Regions from separate parts of the Homo sapiens genome. Here region 1 is linked to region 2. Evidence: fine-mapped expression QTL. Tissue or cell type: whole blood. Region 2 holds a variant in brackets; the other region holds the start of a gene. All regions are shown on one strand. Distances are between the middles of the regions.

The links. PIP is the estimated chance that this variant, and not a neighbour inherited with it, causes the effect.
Region 1: MAPKBP1 starts here. The variant in region 2 is fine-mapped to the expression of MAPKBP1 in whole blood (TOPMed, PIP 0.98).

What each region holds. Positions count from the first base shown.
Region 1 is chr15:41,770,583-41,778,582 of GRCh38, forward strand. It overlaps MAPKBP1 (mitogen-activated protein kinase binding protein 1), which reads left to right and starts at 3,902. Exons shown (of 31, transcript NM_014994.3): 1 at 3,902-4,028; 2 at 4,585-4,807. The coding sequence starts at 4,694. RefSeq lists an enhancer at 3,349-3,398.
Region 2 is chr15:41,697,038-41,705,037 of GRCh38, forward strand. MGA (MAX dimerization protein MGA) reads left to right here. Exons shown (of 24, transcript NM_001400225.1): 4 at 1,826-1,904; 5 at 2,027-2,122. Among named protein-coding and RNA genes, the nearest start is that of MIR626, 9.5 kb to the left of the region's middle. The variant G/A (reference allele first, on the strand shown) is at 3,200.

The DNA.
Region 1 (8,000 bases), 74 kb after region 2:
CTAACTATACTGGTTGAGATATTTGAAATCAAATAGGGTGATGCACTTTAAAAACGGGTCTAGAAAATAGTGACAGCCCTTGTCCCTCACTCCAGAATTAAACAACAACAAACCATACACAGCACATTTTCCAGGTACTTTTATAGAGAATGACTGATAACCAAGAATCAGAATACATTTCTTGCACAAAACTGTTGGTTTTGAAGAAGGTGCTGTAAAGGCATCAGTACTTCATGTCACTGTATTATCACTAATGAAATTTTTATTTTTATTTTTTTTGAGGCAGAGTCTCACTCTGTCGCCCAGGCTGGAGTGCAGTGGTGCCGTCTTGGCTCACTGCAAGCTCTGCCTCCCGGGTTTACGCCATTGTCCTGCCTCAGCCTCCGGAGTAGCTGGGACTACAGGCGCCCGACACTGTGCCCGGCTAATTTTTTTGTATTTTTTTGTAGAGACAGGGTTTCACCATGTTAGCCAGGATGGTCTCAATCTCCTGACCTTGTGATCCGCCCGCCTCGGCCTCCCAAAGTGCTGGGATTACAGGCGTGAGCCACTGCGCCCGGCCTACTAATGAAATTTTACATGGACACAAATATCTAGGTGCAGGGAAAATTAAAGCTGAGATATTCAGACTCACTGCCAGTTGGAGGAAAAAAATCAGTTATAACGCATTTTTTGGAATAGAGGGAAATAATTTGATAAGTACAACTTTTTGTTTGAGGTGTAGCTAATGTTAGACATGACTGAGCTGTTCTACACATAAGTGTTGAATAGTGATGGTGGTGCATTAAGAGGATGGGAAGACTATGGGATGAGTTGGAAATTTTGAGACAAATCTAAACTCTACTAATTTCTATTGTTGTAAACTCTGCTGGTAGAAAAGATATTAAGTAGGAAAGCAGTCTTGGAAGCATGGTTTTGAGATCCATTGTGTTTCCAACTGCAATCATTGATCTCAGCTGTTGCACAGTGCCTTTGCATGTAAAGGTGCTCAATAAATATTTGAATTGATGAGCAAATGTTTAGACTGTTTCCCAGGAACTTATACCTTATTTGCATGTTATGCCTAGGGTGAATTTTAAAATTTGATCTAATGAGTATAGTGCTAAACAGACAACTATATAACGTCTATTCCCCAGACATCTAGAATTTCAGAAGCTGGCAAACACTATGTATAGATGTTTAGGACATATAAAAGTAGAATAAAGTGTTAAATAGTGTATGGATGATGAAATACTTATGAAGAGTTAACTGCATTTTGGAGGATTGGGATGGCAAGTAGAGTCATGCGTCACTTAATGATGGGGATACGTTCTGAGAAATGCACCTTGGGTGGTTTTGTTCTGCAAACATCATAGAGTGTACTGTACTTAAACAAACCTAGATGGTGTTGCTTAACCACACACCTAGGCTGTGTTGCTCCTAGGCTACAACTCTGTACAGCATGTTAACTGCACTGAATATCATAGGCAGTTGTAACACGTGGTGTTTGTGTGTCTACACATAGGAAAGGTATGGTAAAAATATGATATTATAATTTAATGGGATCATGTGGTCATTGAAATGTATACAGTGCATGACTGTAAATCTGAGTGGAGAAAAGTGAATAATGCTTCTGTTCACATTAGACCTGGGACTGTTATTTTCTGAGGAATTAATGAAGAATGGGAATAGCCTATATAGCTTATTCCTATATTGGTATCTCAAAGGCAGTGTAGTACCTAGACAATAAAAGTTGGACTGAATTGTGAAGAATTAAAAATGTGTGGGCCGGGCATGGTGGCTCACGCCTGTAATCCTGGCACTTTGGGAGGCCAAGGCAGGCGGATCACGAGGTCAGGAGATCGAGACCTCCTGGCCAACATGGTGAAACCCCATCTTTACTAAAAATACAAAAATTAACTGGGTGTGGTGGCGCGTGCCTGTAATCCCAGCTACTCGGGAGGCTGAGGCAAGAGAATGGCTTGAAACCAGGAGTCGGAGGTTGCAGTGAGCTGAGATCGCCACTGCAGTCCAGTCTGGGGACAGAGCAAGACTCTGTTTAAAAAAAAAAAAAAAAAAAAAAAAAAAGCGTGGCTTTGGCCTAAGACTGGAAGTACCCAGATTCCAGACTTAAGAAATCCTCATTAAAATGCTTTCAGTTGTTTTTCATGAAAGAAATGACCAGTGATACTTTGTAAACCATTTATCTGGCCATGAGTGATCAGGTGAGAAAACCGTTAGCGGACACCAGAATGATCTGGAGAGGATTAGGGACGGCTCTTGTGGGCACATTTTTACTCTAGTTTCATGGGTGGAGATGGCATCTGCCGTGGTCTGCAGCATGCAAGTAAAGACACCAGGTGGCACCATTTATTAGCTTTCAATCCCATGGAGAGGTCCCATCATGTAACTACCAAGAGGTTGAAGGAACCAACTACCTCTTGCATATTGTAGCTAATGGTTCTTGCCTTCTTCTTCCAGACTTGGGAAATAAATTTGAAAATCGTATTTTCTGTTTCATAATATTTGCAGTGCATGGTTGAAGGGAAGAAGGCCACGTGCTATTGCCAGTTGGTCTCCAGGAGGTGACATCCATCATCTCCATGTCAACTTGTGAGCTTTACAAATCTAATTTTCAGTACGTGGCTACAGTATACACAAGAAAATATGTGCTTTGCCACTTGGCTCTAAAGGCTCACCGTTGTACACAAGCAATGAGTTTAGGGGTTCTTCCCTCTTGTTATCACATGTCATCTCCACAGGGTTTCAAAAGATCTGGATAGGGTGAGACAGACACACCAGTGTAGTACTCCCTTGGGTCCCTTGTCTTTGGCTTAGGCTTTTTCATAAGGTATAATAATTTGTTAGAGGTTCTTCCCTCTTGCAGACACATGTCATCTCCACAGGGATTCAAAAGATCTGGATAGGGTGAGACGGACACACCAGTGTACTATTCCCTTGGGACCCAAGTCTCTGGCTTAGGCTTTTTCATAAGGTGATTTCTTGTGGTAGTAGTCAAGTGGAGAATACTCAGGAAATACTATTTCATGTAACATTTCCGTGTATTCCCTCTGCCTCCCCCGACATGAGTTAGAAAACTACCCCTCGATCTAGTATCAGCAAGCTCGACAGTGACCTCAGCAAGGAACAGCCCTAGATAAAAGGATTCATAAGTAAATGGAATGAGGAAAAGATCTGGAGCAACAAAGTCCTGGTCAGCTTTAGGTGAGGAAGCACAATGGGATGTTGGAGGCTAAAGAAGCCATGAAACCTAAAGTATTATAACATAGCATATTCACTTCTCTTTCCCCCGCACGCCCAAAGCTCTGTTCAAGGCCACCCTTTCCCCTTTCATGATGACCAGGTTGCCCAGTGCAAAAATACTGTTCTTAGCTATTAAATTGCATTACTCAGAATAATCCTTTCCACGTTGAGTCTACGTGCCGGACTGGCTGCGAGCAGAAACTACTTCAGTCGCTTTAAATCTCAACACTTGTGGTCGCTGGGAGCAGAGCTTTTAGGCTGTAGCTCAGTCTTGTAATTCTGAGCTAGGAGTTTCAGCTACGGTCCCTCGGGCCTATCAGATGACAACCTTAACACCCTGGAGGCGTGGTTATCGTCTTGGGGCTCTGGGAAGTGCAGTTCCATGGGGGACCAGGCCTGATAATACCATAAAAGGCTTGGTTCTCTCAATTCTGAAGCCATGTTCTGTTGACCTTCCTCTAAAAGCGGTACCCGCAATTGTGCGGATTCCGTGGTTCCCTAGTCCCAAGCCGTCTGCTTCCTGGGCCCTTTCATTGGCTCCGCCCCCGTAAACCTTGCTCGTCCACTCTGGAAGCGCTCTCCTGACTACAGGCCGCGCCCCTCGCGTCGGCTCCGCCCACCCAGCCCGCGGCTTGGCCCAGGCGGTAGTTCGCGTTTTGAGCCGATCGTGCCACCATAGCTCCTGCTGCTGCCTCTACCGCTGCGGCTACCGCGGCGGAGCTGAAATTGCCGAACGCGATGCCCGAGGGCGCTGTGAGCGGGGTGGCCTTAGCTCGCCGAGGCTGGTGAGGCTGGGCCCGAACGGGGGCGCTGACGAGTAGCAGGGGCCTCAGAGGCGGGTGAAAGATAAAGGTCCAGAGCCGCTGTGGAGGGCGGAGAGCGAGCTCTGGAGGATAGGGAGTGGGGGAGGGAGGCTCCCGTGGCAGAACGAGTTGTGGGCTACGGCGAGCCCCGCCGCGTCCCCGCCGGCGCTAGCGCAGGTGTCCAGGCCTGCGGAAATCCCTGGTGGTCTCGGCGGCCTCCTCCCTTGGACACTACAGTTGCCATGGGAACAGTTGGGCATTAACGGGAACCAGATCGTCCACGAGACCAACTGGGGCCCATCCCATCCATCTCGCCAGTTAAACGCCTCTGGCGGGCGTGGGCCTGGCATTTCTTCGTGGCTTAGGATTTTCCCCCCCTTTTTCGTGAGCCTTTCCTTCCGACGTTGTAAGAAACTGTGCAGGGCTAGAAGGTGGGGATGAGGGAAATGGTGAGAGCAATACCCAGAGGTAAAAGCTGCAGACTTCGCTAGGCAGAAGGTAAGACACTGTGATACTAAGGTGGCTTCTGCCATCTCAGGTCAGTGAGAGGGCATACTGGGAAGCCCTCTGGAGTGGGAAGACAGTGCCGCTGTTGAGACAAGACCCAGGACTGGGCCGGGGACTGTCCCAAAGGGTTTCTCGTCATAATGGCTGTGGAAGGGTCAACCATTACCAGCCGGATCAAGAATCTGTTGAGATCTCCATCCATCAAACTGCGCAGGAGTAAGGCAGGAAACCGACGAGAGGACCTCAGCTCCAAGGTGAGTCCTGTTGGGATCCACCTCTTTCCAAACCCACCCTCTCCTGCTCCATGTTCCTCGTTAACCTTCCTGTTTCTTGGGAAAGATAACTAGAAGCCCTTGTTGACTCTAAAGGATCACATATGATCTCTGCAGGCAATGATTTGGTTTTAGGTTGAAGGAAAAAGAGCAGCAGGGGTGGGCATGCTGAGATTCATCCATGAGAAAAGGTGAATAGTAGGAAGACCACCTGGGTTCAATTGTGGCCTCACTATACACTAAGCATGTGCTTGGGAAGCCAGTTGATATGCTATGACTCAGTTTCCCTTCTTGGGAGAGGACAGTAGGAACACATACCTTGTGAAGGGCTAAGCTGTGACTAATGTAGCTGCAGGTGTTAACGTAACAGCTGGGGTTATGTAAGACTGTAGTGGCAGAAAGAAATATGCTAAAACACCTAGTCAGAGTTACTGGCTTGGTAATTGCTCTTGCCTACGGTGAAAACAAATTTTTTTTGTCTCTTCAAGAGGCTAACTGGAGCCTTTTGGCTTCTTAGGAATAACATGCAAGAAGCCAGATATCTGTCAGCAAAACAGTTCTGGATGGCCCTTGAGCATTGCTTATCTCATTCACTATATGCCAAGAGCCACATCCCACTCAGCTGCAGATGATCCTCAGAGGCAAAGTTCCTTTCCATCGCTTCACTTGTCTGTGTTTTGGTCCTTATGCTTTTTCAACTAAATAAACCCCACAACTTTGGGAATCCAGAAGTAGTCGACATTTATTTAATCCCTTGAGGGAATCCAGGGCTTTACTCCCACAGGATCAGATCAGATTTTGTGTCTTATTAGTAGCCTGTAAACCCAATAGGGTTGTGAGGTACAAGGTTGTTACAGGGAGAGGCATTTGAGACCACAGCATTGTATTGCTTTGCCTGTATCTCTTCAGTGATGAGTAAATCCCATGAGGAATGATTTAGAATGCCACTGTACAAATGGCAGGGTTCTGGGAGGACTTAGTTCAGCCCTGTGTTCCTTAGCAGAACTTTGAGTAGATTTGGTAAGAAGGTGAAGAGCTTTCCTGTATATTTCAGCAGAAGTTGTGTTGAATCACAGTTTGCTACAAGGTTTTGTGATGGTGGACATTGTGACCCTTCCAAGGTCTCTTATTCATCATTGTTTCTATTCTCCTGAGGCAGGCAAAGAAGCCTGAAATGTAGAAATTGCCTTAGATATGACTCTGTTCATTCTTAATACTGCAAGTGCTCTTATTCTTGGCTGGTAGCTTGGCAGTGACCAGCACTGTTAGAGCAATCTTCTCCAATCTTTGGCCTCTTTTTCTGGCCAGGAATGATATATGTAGTAGAAACATATAATGAGAGTTTAGCCTTCATTGTTAATTCTTACTGTAATTTTGGTCTGGAATCCAGAAAGTATAGTTGCCATTCTTTAAGACTTCCAATATCATCCATTATTAATGCATTTAACAAGTGTTTATTGAGTGCCTATGAAGTGTGCAATCAGTGATGGGTAAAACATTACCCTTGCCATCAAAGAGCTTATGGCTAGTCAGACATGTAAACAATTAAAACACGGTGTGGTAAGTGCTGCTGTAGAAGTATGTGTACGTTGTTAATGGAAGCACAGGGGAGGCGACCTAAGTCAGTTCAGAGGAATTAGGAAAGGCTTCACAGGCCAGGCATGGTGGCTCACCCCTGTAATCCCAGCACTTTGGGAGGCCAAGGCGGATGGATCACTAGGTCAGGAGTTCGAAACCAGCCTGGTCAAGATGGTGAAACCTCATCTCTACTAAAAATACAAAAATTAGCCGGGCGTGGTGGTGCATGTCTGTAATCCCAGCTACTCGGGAGGCTGAGGCAGGAGACTCGCCTGAACCCGGGAGGCTGAGGTTGCAGTGAGCTCAGATCCTGCCAGTGCACTCTAGCCTGGGTAACAGAGCAAGACTCCGTCTCAAAAAAAAAAAAAAAAGGAAAGGCTTCACAGAGGAAGGGATGCTTGAACTGTGAGTCCTAAGGCAGGTGGAGAAGAGCTCTCCAGGAAAACAGTGGAAAAGGGGCATCCCTGGCAAGACCATTTACCATTCCCTGTTTAAAATAGGAATTCAGTGCTTCAGACTGCTTTAGATGGCTTTGTCTGTCCTGAAGCTGTGTATGAAAGAAATACTTAGCTGAAGTTGAATGACCCTTGAATGGTCTGGCAGCAAAATGACTGGTGCATATCTTTAGCACCCAAGAGGAGTAGCTGTCTTTGTGCGCCCAGGACCCTAGAGATGCCAGACTCCCCACACTCCTTAGTAAAAGGTCTCTACCTGAGATTATTCTAAAAGCCTGCCTTGTGATTACTCTAGTGTATTAAGCTCTGTGAGTTGCTCTAACATGTGGTGGCTGTGAGTAATCATGATAACAGGAAATTTGTGATTCATGGATAGCTAATTCTCAAATAAAATTTGAAGACAAAAAGGTACATGCCCCTTTTGGGGGGCAAAGAAGGAAATGTCAGAAAGCTTTTATGCAGCTCTTACTTCAGATGGCCTCCTGCTTTGAATTATACTGTTCTTTCTATCTAAAGTAGCCTTCTCCTTTACACCAAATTGTACACTTATTTTTAGGTCCAATTCTGTATTTATCAGAGCCACAGGGCTTTCTGTGACTAGTCCCCCACCTTGAAACCAATATCTTATTGTTATTTTATGTATGTCTTCATTTCCTAAGGATCGGGGTCATGCTCTTTATTTCCTTTACATCACACCGTTTAGGACAGTGTAAGATAGGCAGTAAGTACTAAAAAAAATAAATGAGACTAATTTAAAGATGTCAAATATAGTGCGGGATAAACTTGGACATCCAGGTGAATAAAATAATCAGGAGGAATTTATGACCTCTTTAGAAGAGAGATCAAAACTACGATTAATAAAATGGTGACAAAGAAGTAGAGATGCAGCCTAATTAGGTGTGAAGAACATAAGAGAGAAGAAGTCCACGTATGCAGAAAGCAGTGCTCAGTAAAGGGTTCTTAATTCAGGGGAGACCTAGTTAAAAATATGGCTAAAAGCTGGTGTGAGAGAGCCAGTGGAGGTGGAGATTTAAGTTACATCAAAGAGTAGATGAGTGCTGAGATTTTTATTAAGCTTTTTCAGAGGGAGGGGAGTCTCTTCAGTGGAGTACATTGGAAAAGACTGATTTAAAGTTTTATGC
Region 2 (8,000 bases):
TTCAGGATTCTTTAAGGCTAATTAGTCATACTTGAATTGTATACTGGCTTGTAAGTAACTCGATTTACAATCTAGTTTTGTGATATCTATTTGTGAGGGTGTATGGGGGGTGGAGTTGGGAGGGAAGTGTCTCCAAAATGTTTGGTTTAGTTAATAGGAATAACTTAAGATACTTCATTTGAATAGACTTAAAAAAGTATGTCTTGCTTAGATTTCAGTTTACGATTTTTGCATAGCTGTGTTTAAAAAAAGTCTTCGGGTCTTACTGGAATTTTCATCATTATGGATTTTGGAAAGGACTAAAAATACATGAAATATTTACTAACTCTTTGGTGACGCTCCATTTCTTTTACCTCCTGGTTTTCTTTTATTTTTCTTTTCTTTTTTTTTTTTTTTTGAGACAGAGTCTTGCTCTGTTGCCCAGGCTGGAGTTCAGTGGCACGATCTCAGCTCACTGCAATCTCCGTCTCCCGAGTTCAAGCCATTCTCGTGCCCCAGCCTCACGAGTAGCTGGGATTACAGGCGTGTGCCACCACACCCAGCTAATTTTTGTAATTTTGGTAGAGACGGGGTTTTGCAATGTTGGCCAGCTAATTTCTAACTTCTGGCCTCCAGCAGTCTGCCTGCTTCAGCCTCCCAAAGTGCTGGGATTACATGCATGAGCCACCGCTCCTGGCCCTGGTTTTCAGTAGTAGTAGTAGAGTACCATTGGAGAACCAAATATTAACAGTCATCTTAACTCTCCTGTCTTACACATTGAAGTCTCTGTTTATTCCACTCTGACTCTTCAACCAGATTATTTTTCTTGGAAATTTTTATAGAAGCCCAGTCTTTTTTTATTTATTTTTTGAGATGGAGTCTCGGTCTGTGGCTCATGCTGGAGTGCAGTAGCGCAATCTTGGCTCACTGCAAACTCCGCCTCCTGTGTTCTTGCCATTCCCCTGCCTCAGACTCCCGAGTAGCTGGGACTACAGGTGCTCGCCACCATGCCCGGCTAATTTTTTTTGTATTTTTAGTAGAGACGGGGTTTCACCATATTAGCCAGGATGGTCTCGATCTCCTGGCCTCGTGATCCTCCTGCCTCAGCCTCCCAAAGTGCTGGAATTACAAGCGTGAGCCACTGCCCCTGGCCTCTTTTTTTTTTTTTTTTTGAGACGGAATCTTGCTCTGTCACCAGCTGGAGTGCAGTGGCACAATCTTGGCTCACTGCAACCTCTGTTTCCCGGGTTCAAGCAGTTCCCCTGCCTCAGCCTCCCGAGTAGCTGGGACTACAGGTGTGCATCACCATGCCCAGCTATTTTTTTTATTTTAGTAGAGACAGGGTTTCACCATGTGGCCAGGATGGTCTCAATCTCCTGACCTTGTGATCCACCTGCCTCGGCCTCCCAAAGTGCTGGGATTATAGGCGTGAGCCACTGTGCCAGGCTGTCTTTCTTAATTGACTACACAGATGTTGGATATTTAATCCCTTCTACCTGTTCTTTTCCTCCCTTCTTGTTAGCTGAGTAAGCTATCTGAATATAGGCTCTGAGAAGTGAACATGCAAATTGGCGTATACTTTGAGGTCAGTTAGCTCAGTATGACATCGTATTCACATTTTTTTACTTCCCCCTTTTCCCCTTCTGATTATTAAAGTAATATTAATGTAGAACACTTAGAAAATATCAAAAAGTATGAAAAAATTGCTCCTGTTCTGCCAATGTTAGCGTAACTGTAGGCATGGAGATATTTTCCTTCTGGTCTTTAAGTTTTTTTTAATCCTGTTTTACATTTAAGTTTTCAGAAGCAATATGAACTACTATTTTTTTTTTTTTTTGATGTATAGGAAGCTCTAGACATTCATGCAGTTGATGGGACAACAGAAGAATCTTCTAGTCTCCAGGCATCAACCACAAATGACTCAGGTATTATAAAATAGTATAAAAAGAGTTGTATTTGTGGTTTGGGCTCCAGCAATGAAACATGCAACATTCATTTGTCTGTAGTGTACAGTAGCTTATTTTATTACTATTTATTTTGGGTGTAGGTTACAGAGCAAGAATTTCCCAGTTGGAAAAGGAATTGATAGAAGATTTGAAGACTTTGCGGCACAAGCAGGTGATACATCCTGGTCTTCAAGAAGGTAATAGACTAGCGACTTCTTTTTTTTTGTTTTCTTTTTTTCTTTCTTCCCTACTGTTTCTCCTCTTTTTCCTCTCTCTTTCTCATCTCTTTTTTTCTGTTTTTTCCTCTTTCTTTCTAGCCTTGATTTCATTTCTTTCAGCACGTCTTTCAGTTTGCATATTTTTCTCTTCTCTGTCTCCATAATTCTTCCCTTTAGTTTAAAAACCATGTCTAATATCTTATGTAAGAAAAAAATGTATCATGGTAAAGCAAGTGATATTTTCTTTGTTCATTCTTATAACCTGGTATTCTCCCCTTCCCGTTTCTCATCTTAATTTGGTTGCTTTTGTTTATGTGTGTGTGTGTGTGTTTGTTTGAGACGGAGTTTCGCTCTGTCGCCCAGGCGGCTGGAGTGCAGTGGTGCAATCTCTGCTCACTGCAAGCTCCGCCTCCTGGGTTCATGCCATTCTCCTGCCTCAGCCTCCCAAGTAGCTGGGACCACAGGCGCCTGCCACCGCGCCTGGCTAATTTTTTTGTATTTTTAGTAGAGACGGTTTCACCGTGTTAGCCAGGATGGTCTTGATCTCCTGACCTTGTGATCCGCCCGCCTCGGCCTCCCAATTATGTGTTTGTTTTTATAATTTTGGAGGAAGGGTCTTCCTTGTCCTTTAGTAGTATATTTAGGTGTGTAAACAGTAGAATACTTTTCTGTCTCATGTTTTGGCTGCAAACATCTATTTTATATATTTGATGTACCACTGGGAAGTTAATTTAAAATTTTCATTATCTTTTTTTTTTAAAATTTTACTTTGAGTTCTGGGATACGTGTACAGAATGTGCAGGTTACATAGTTATACATGTGCTATGGTGGTTTCCTGTACCTATCAACCTGTCATCGAGGTTTTTTTTTTTTTTTTTTTTTTTGATGCGCAGTCTCGCTCTCGCCCAGGCTGGAGTGCAGTGGCACGATCTCAGCTCACTGCAAGCTCTGCCTCCTGGGTTCACACCACTCTCCTGCCTCAGCCTCCCAAGTAGCTGGGACTACAGGCGCCTGCTACCATGCCCGGCTAATTTTTTTTGTATTTTTAGTAGAGAC[G/A]GGGTTTCACTGTGTTAACCAGGATGGTCTCGATCTCCTGACCTCATGATCTGCCCGCCTCGGCCTCCCAAAGTGCTGAGATTACAGGCGTGAGCCACCGCGCCCGGCCCTGTCATCTAGGTTTTAAGCCCTGCATGCATTAGGTGTTTGTCCTAATGCTCTCCCTCCCCACCAACAGGCTCTGGTGTGTGATGTTCCCCTCCTTGCATCCATGTGTTCTCATTGTTCATCTCCCACTTACGAGTGAAAACATGCAGTGTTTGGTTTTCTGTTCCTATGTTAGTTTGCTTAGAATAATGGCTTCCAGCTTCATCCATGTCCCTGCAAAGGGCATGAACTCATTCTTTTTTATGGCTGCAGTTTTCATTTTTATCTTTATTTTATTGTAATGCATTATCTTGACCTTGATTATGTTGCTTAATCTTTAAAAAAACATATCTACTATGGTTATTAACATCATGATCACTACCAATTTTCCTGTTTTGGGGTGTAATGAAAAATTTTAGGCTGTGCCCCAATTTTTAGTTTCTTACGACTATCTTTGATTTTAGATAGGCATCTTGGAGTAGTTTTTTGAATTTTTGACTCATTAATTTTCAGAAGGGTGTCTAGACTATTTACACTATAAGTAGTTCATTTACCTGAGAGTCTAAACATTATAAGTTATCAAACAAAAGATTTATATGCTGGTCATTCCGTTTCTAAATCAAATGGTAATACTTGAAGAATTTTTGCTTTAATGGAAGGCAGCTTGTGTGACAGTGCGATCTTAAAAGTGTGCAGATCCCAGTCTCAGTCAATCAATGTGGGCTGATTGCTGTGGATTGTAATAGACAGTCACATCATAGCAATCTTGCAGATAACGTTTGCTGCTGTTTATTGTCAGCTTTAGCTTCTGCTATTTTATTTAAATAATATTATCTTATTTCTCCCTATCTTTTTTTCTCCCCTTTTCCTTTCTTCATTTCTCCCTATCTTTAACTTAACCTGTCTTCTCCCTTTTCCACTTCCATTTTTTTTGTTATTTTCTTGATAATGTAGAAATATTATGACATTTATATTGTGTTCTTTTAACTTAATCTCCCACATTTTAAAAATCTTAGTTCTAGAGTTAAATATATTCAGTGCTTGCAGCTGGTCCTTTTGCTCTGGTTTATTTGCCTAGTATTTGCTGGTTGGCTAAGCTTTGACTGTTTTTCTTTCTTTTATAGACATCTTAGTCAAATTTGTAATCGTTTCCTTAATGGAATGGGGTGTTCAAAGGCCAGTGTTTATGGAAACTGACTAGGTAACATATATAGTGAAATTAGCCTGAATTTGGGGGGTAGAGTTGGACTCTGGTCGGGTAGAGTACAGGCACTTCTTCTAAAGGGACAGCTGCATCAGTGGATTGTTGTCATATGGAAAAATGGGCCCAAAATTCTCAGGTCTGCTCATAGTTCAGTAGAAGCTGGAGTGGCTATGTGATGTCTCTGAAGTGGTGGCAGCTAATAGTTTTTTGGGCACCTAACTCAAAGCTTTAAAAACACAGCCAAACAAAAGGTGTCTGAGCTATTACTTTTCACCTTCTTTATAGATTCTACATTTGGTGCAAGTTTGTATTTAATCCTAAGGTTTTTAAAATTTATTCAACTACATGCTGACACAGTTTTGTTTTTTTGAAAAACAATTAAATCTGTAATCTGTCTGGTACTTACTTTTCAATGTGTGAAGTGGAGTCCTGTTTTGGGTTTTTTTTCCTCTATTTTATTTTAGCATATTTTTCTCCCCAACCTTGGCTTCCTTTAAAAAGCCATACTTGGGCCAGGCTCGGTGGCTCAAGTCTGTAATCCCAGCACTTTGAGAGGCCAAGGCGGGTGGATCACTTGAGGTTGGGAGTTCGAGACTAGCCTGGCCAACGTGGCGAAACTCCGTCTCTACTAAAAATACAAAAAATTAGCCAGGTGTGGTGGTGAGCACCTGCAATCCCAGCTACTTGGGAGGCTGAGGCAGGAGAATTGCTTGAAAACCCGGGAGGCGGAGCTTGCAGTGAGCCGAGATCGCGCCACCACACTCCAGCCTGGGCGACACAGTGAGACATTGTCTCAAAAAAAAAAAAAAAAGCTGGACTTAAACAGTTTCTGAAGAGTAAGTTAATTTGGCTAAATATTTGTATTAACTGGGTGATGCCAATCCCAGGGCTCTGAAGAGAATGAAAGTATTCCAGGTTCATCTCTAAAATTTGATTCTTGAAATAATTTGTTGAATTTCAACTTAATGTCATATTTCCTTGTCCTGCTATTAACTATAATTTCATTAATTAGAAAATAGCAGTTAAACTTCTTCTGAGCTGAAAACCCTTGAAAAACTAGAAAAGCTTTTTGAATTTGCTTTAAAATTGGGAAAGCAGTGTTGATTAAGCCTGGGAAAATGTTATATTGTTGTTGGTAGTTTTACTTAAAAATAAAATAAGATTCTTAATTTTTCTTTCCGTGGTACTATATTTTTGTTTGCTATATTTACTGTATCTACATTGGTCTGCTTTTTAAGTCTGTTAGCTTATCTGAAATTATCGTCTGTCTTTGCATTTTAAAAGTGTGTTTAAAGCATTTCTCCTTCATTGCTACCAAGTCAATTATTGTCAGTTTTTTATTAAAGCTTTATGTTTTGGAAGAGTTTTAGATTTATAGAAAAATTAAGAACACAGTGCAGAGAATACCTATTTTTTTTCCCCCCATTCCTAATTCTCTCAGTATCCAGAATTTCTCCTATTAATATCTAACATAAGATTGGTACATTTGTTACAGTTAGTGAACCAGTACTGATATATTACTATTTAAAGTTCATACTTTATTCAGATTTCCTTAGTTTTTACCCAATGTCCTTTTTTTTGCATCTAGGATCCCATTCAGGATACCACAAGACTTTTAGTAGTGATGTCTCCTTAGGATCTTCCTGGTTGTGACAGTTTCTCAGATTTTGTGTTTAATGACCTTGACAGTTTTGAAGAGTCAGGTATTTTTATAGATGTCCCTCAGTTGAGACTTATCATCTCATCATATCAAGAGTACATACATTAACATGATTTATCACTATTGATGTTGACCTTGATCACCTGGCTAAGATATTGTCAGTTTATTCATTGTGAAGTTACCCCCCCCCCCACTCCCCACCCTCCCTTTCTCTCCATATTGTACTCTTTGGAAGGAAGTCATTATGCTTAGCTCACACTTAATGTGCAAGAAGTTATATTGTACCTCCTTGAGTGTAGCCTATCTATATAAGTTATTTGTAGTTATTTTGCACCAGAGATTTATCTATTCTTCTTTTTAAAAAATTCACTTAGATGAAACTCCATCTCTACTAAAAATACAAAATTTACTGGGTGTGGTGGTGCGTGCCTGTAATCCCAGTTACTCTGGAGGCTGAGGCAGGAGAATTGCTTGAAACTGGGAGATGGAGGTTGCAGTGAGTGGAGATCCTGCCACTGCACTCCAGCCTGGGCAACAGAGCGAGACTGTCTCAAAAAATAAAAATAAAAAATTCACTTATCAGTGTGGACTCTTGTCAGTTTTAATGTTTTGTTTTGGTTTTTGGTTGTTGTTTTTGAGACAGGGTCTCGCTTTGTCACCCAGCCTAGGCTATAGTGCAGTGATGTGAACATGGCTCACTGCAGTCTCGACCTCCTGAGCCCCAGTGATCACATGTCAGCCCCCCAAGTAGCTGGGACTACAAGCACATGCCACCACACCTGGCTAATTTTTTTTGGTATTTTTTTGTAGAGATGGGGTTTTGCCATGTTGCCCAGCCTGGTCTCGAACTCTTCAGCTCAAGAGGTCTGCCCGCCTTGGCCTCCTGAAGTGGTGGGATTATAGGCATGAGCCATTATGTCTGGCCGGTTTTAATGTTAATTTCCTTTATGAGTAATGACAATATTTCAAGAACTGTCTTCCTCTTCCTTTTTTAGTAATTTAATAAAAATGCTTTATTTTTCCTTAAAATATTTTTTTTTAGAGATGGGGTCTCCCAGTTTTGCCTAGGCTTGTCTCAAACTCCTGGCTTCAGCCCATCCTCCCAAGTAGCTGGAATTACAAGTGTGAGCCATGGTGCCCTGCAGTAAAAAAAAAAAAATTCTGAATGTTACATTAAATTAGTGATTAGCGGCCAGGCGCGGTGGCTCACGCCTGTAATCCCAGCACTTTGGGAGGCCAAGGCGGGTGGATCACAAGGTCAGGAGATCGAGACCATCCTGGTAACACGGTGAAACCCTGTCTCTACTAAAAATACAAAAAATTAGCCAAGAGTGGTGGTGGGCACCTGTAGTCCCAGCTGCTGGGGAGGCTGAAGCAGGAGAATGGCTTGAACCTGGGAGGCGGAGCTTGCAGTGAGTGGAGATCGTGCCACTGCACTCCAGCCTGGGTGACAGAGCAAGACTCCGTCTCAAAAACAAAACAAAACAAAAAAAATTGGTGATTAGCTGGAGTTTTCCTTATAATATGTGCTTTTCTATTCTGTGTTTACTACTTATATAGGTGTTTATAGAACTATAAACATCTTGAGTGTACTTTTGTATTTCAGTGGTTTTAGCTAGCAGTTGGCATTTTTGGCTATATCTTATTGTAGGTGAATCTGTCTTTGCTTGAATCTAAAGGTTATCTCTTTTCAGCTTTATCTTTATGAGTCTTTTTTTGTAATGACATTATAACACATTTTTAAGAAGTAGCTTCTAATATGGTGAAATGAAGCAAAACGATTTAGAAATATAGTTTAAACTGACATGTAGACAAGATTTTAGGTTCTAAGTAGGCTCTGGTTGAATAAA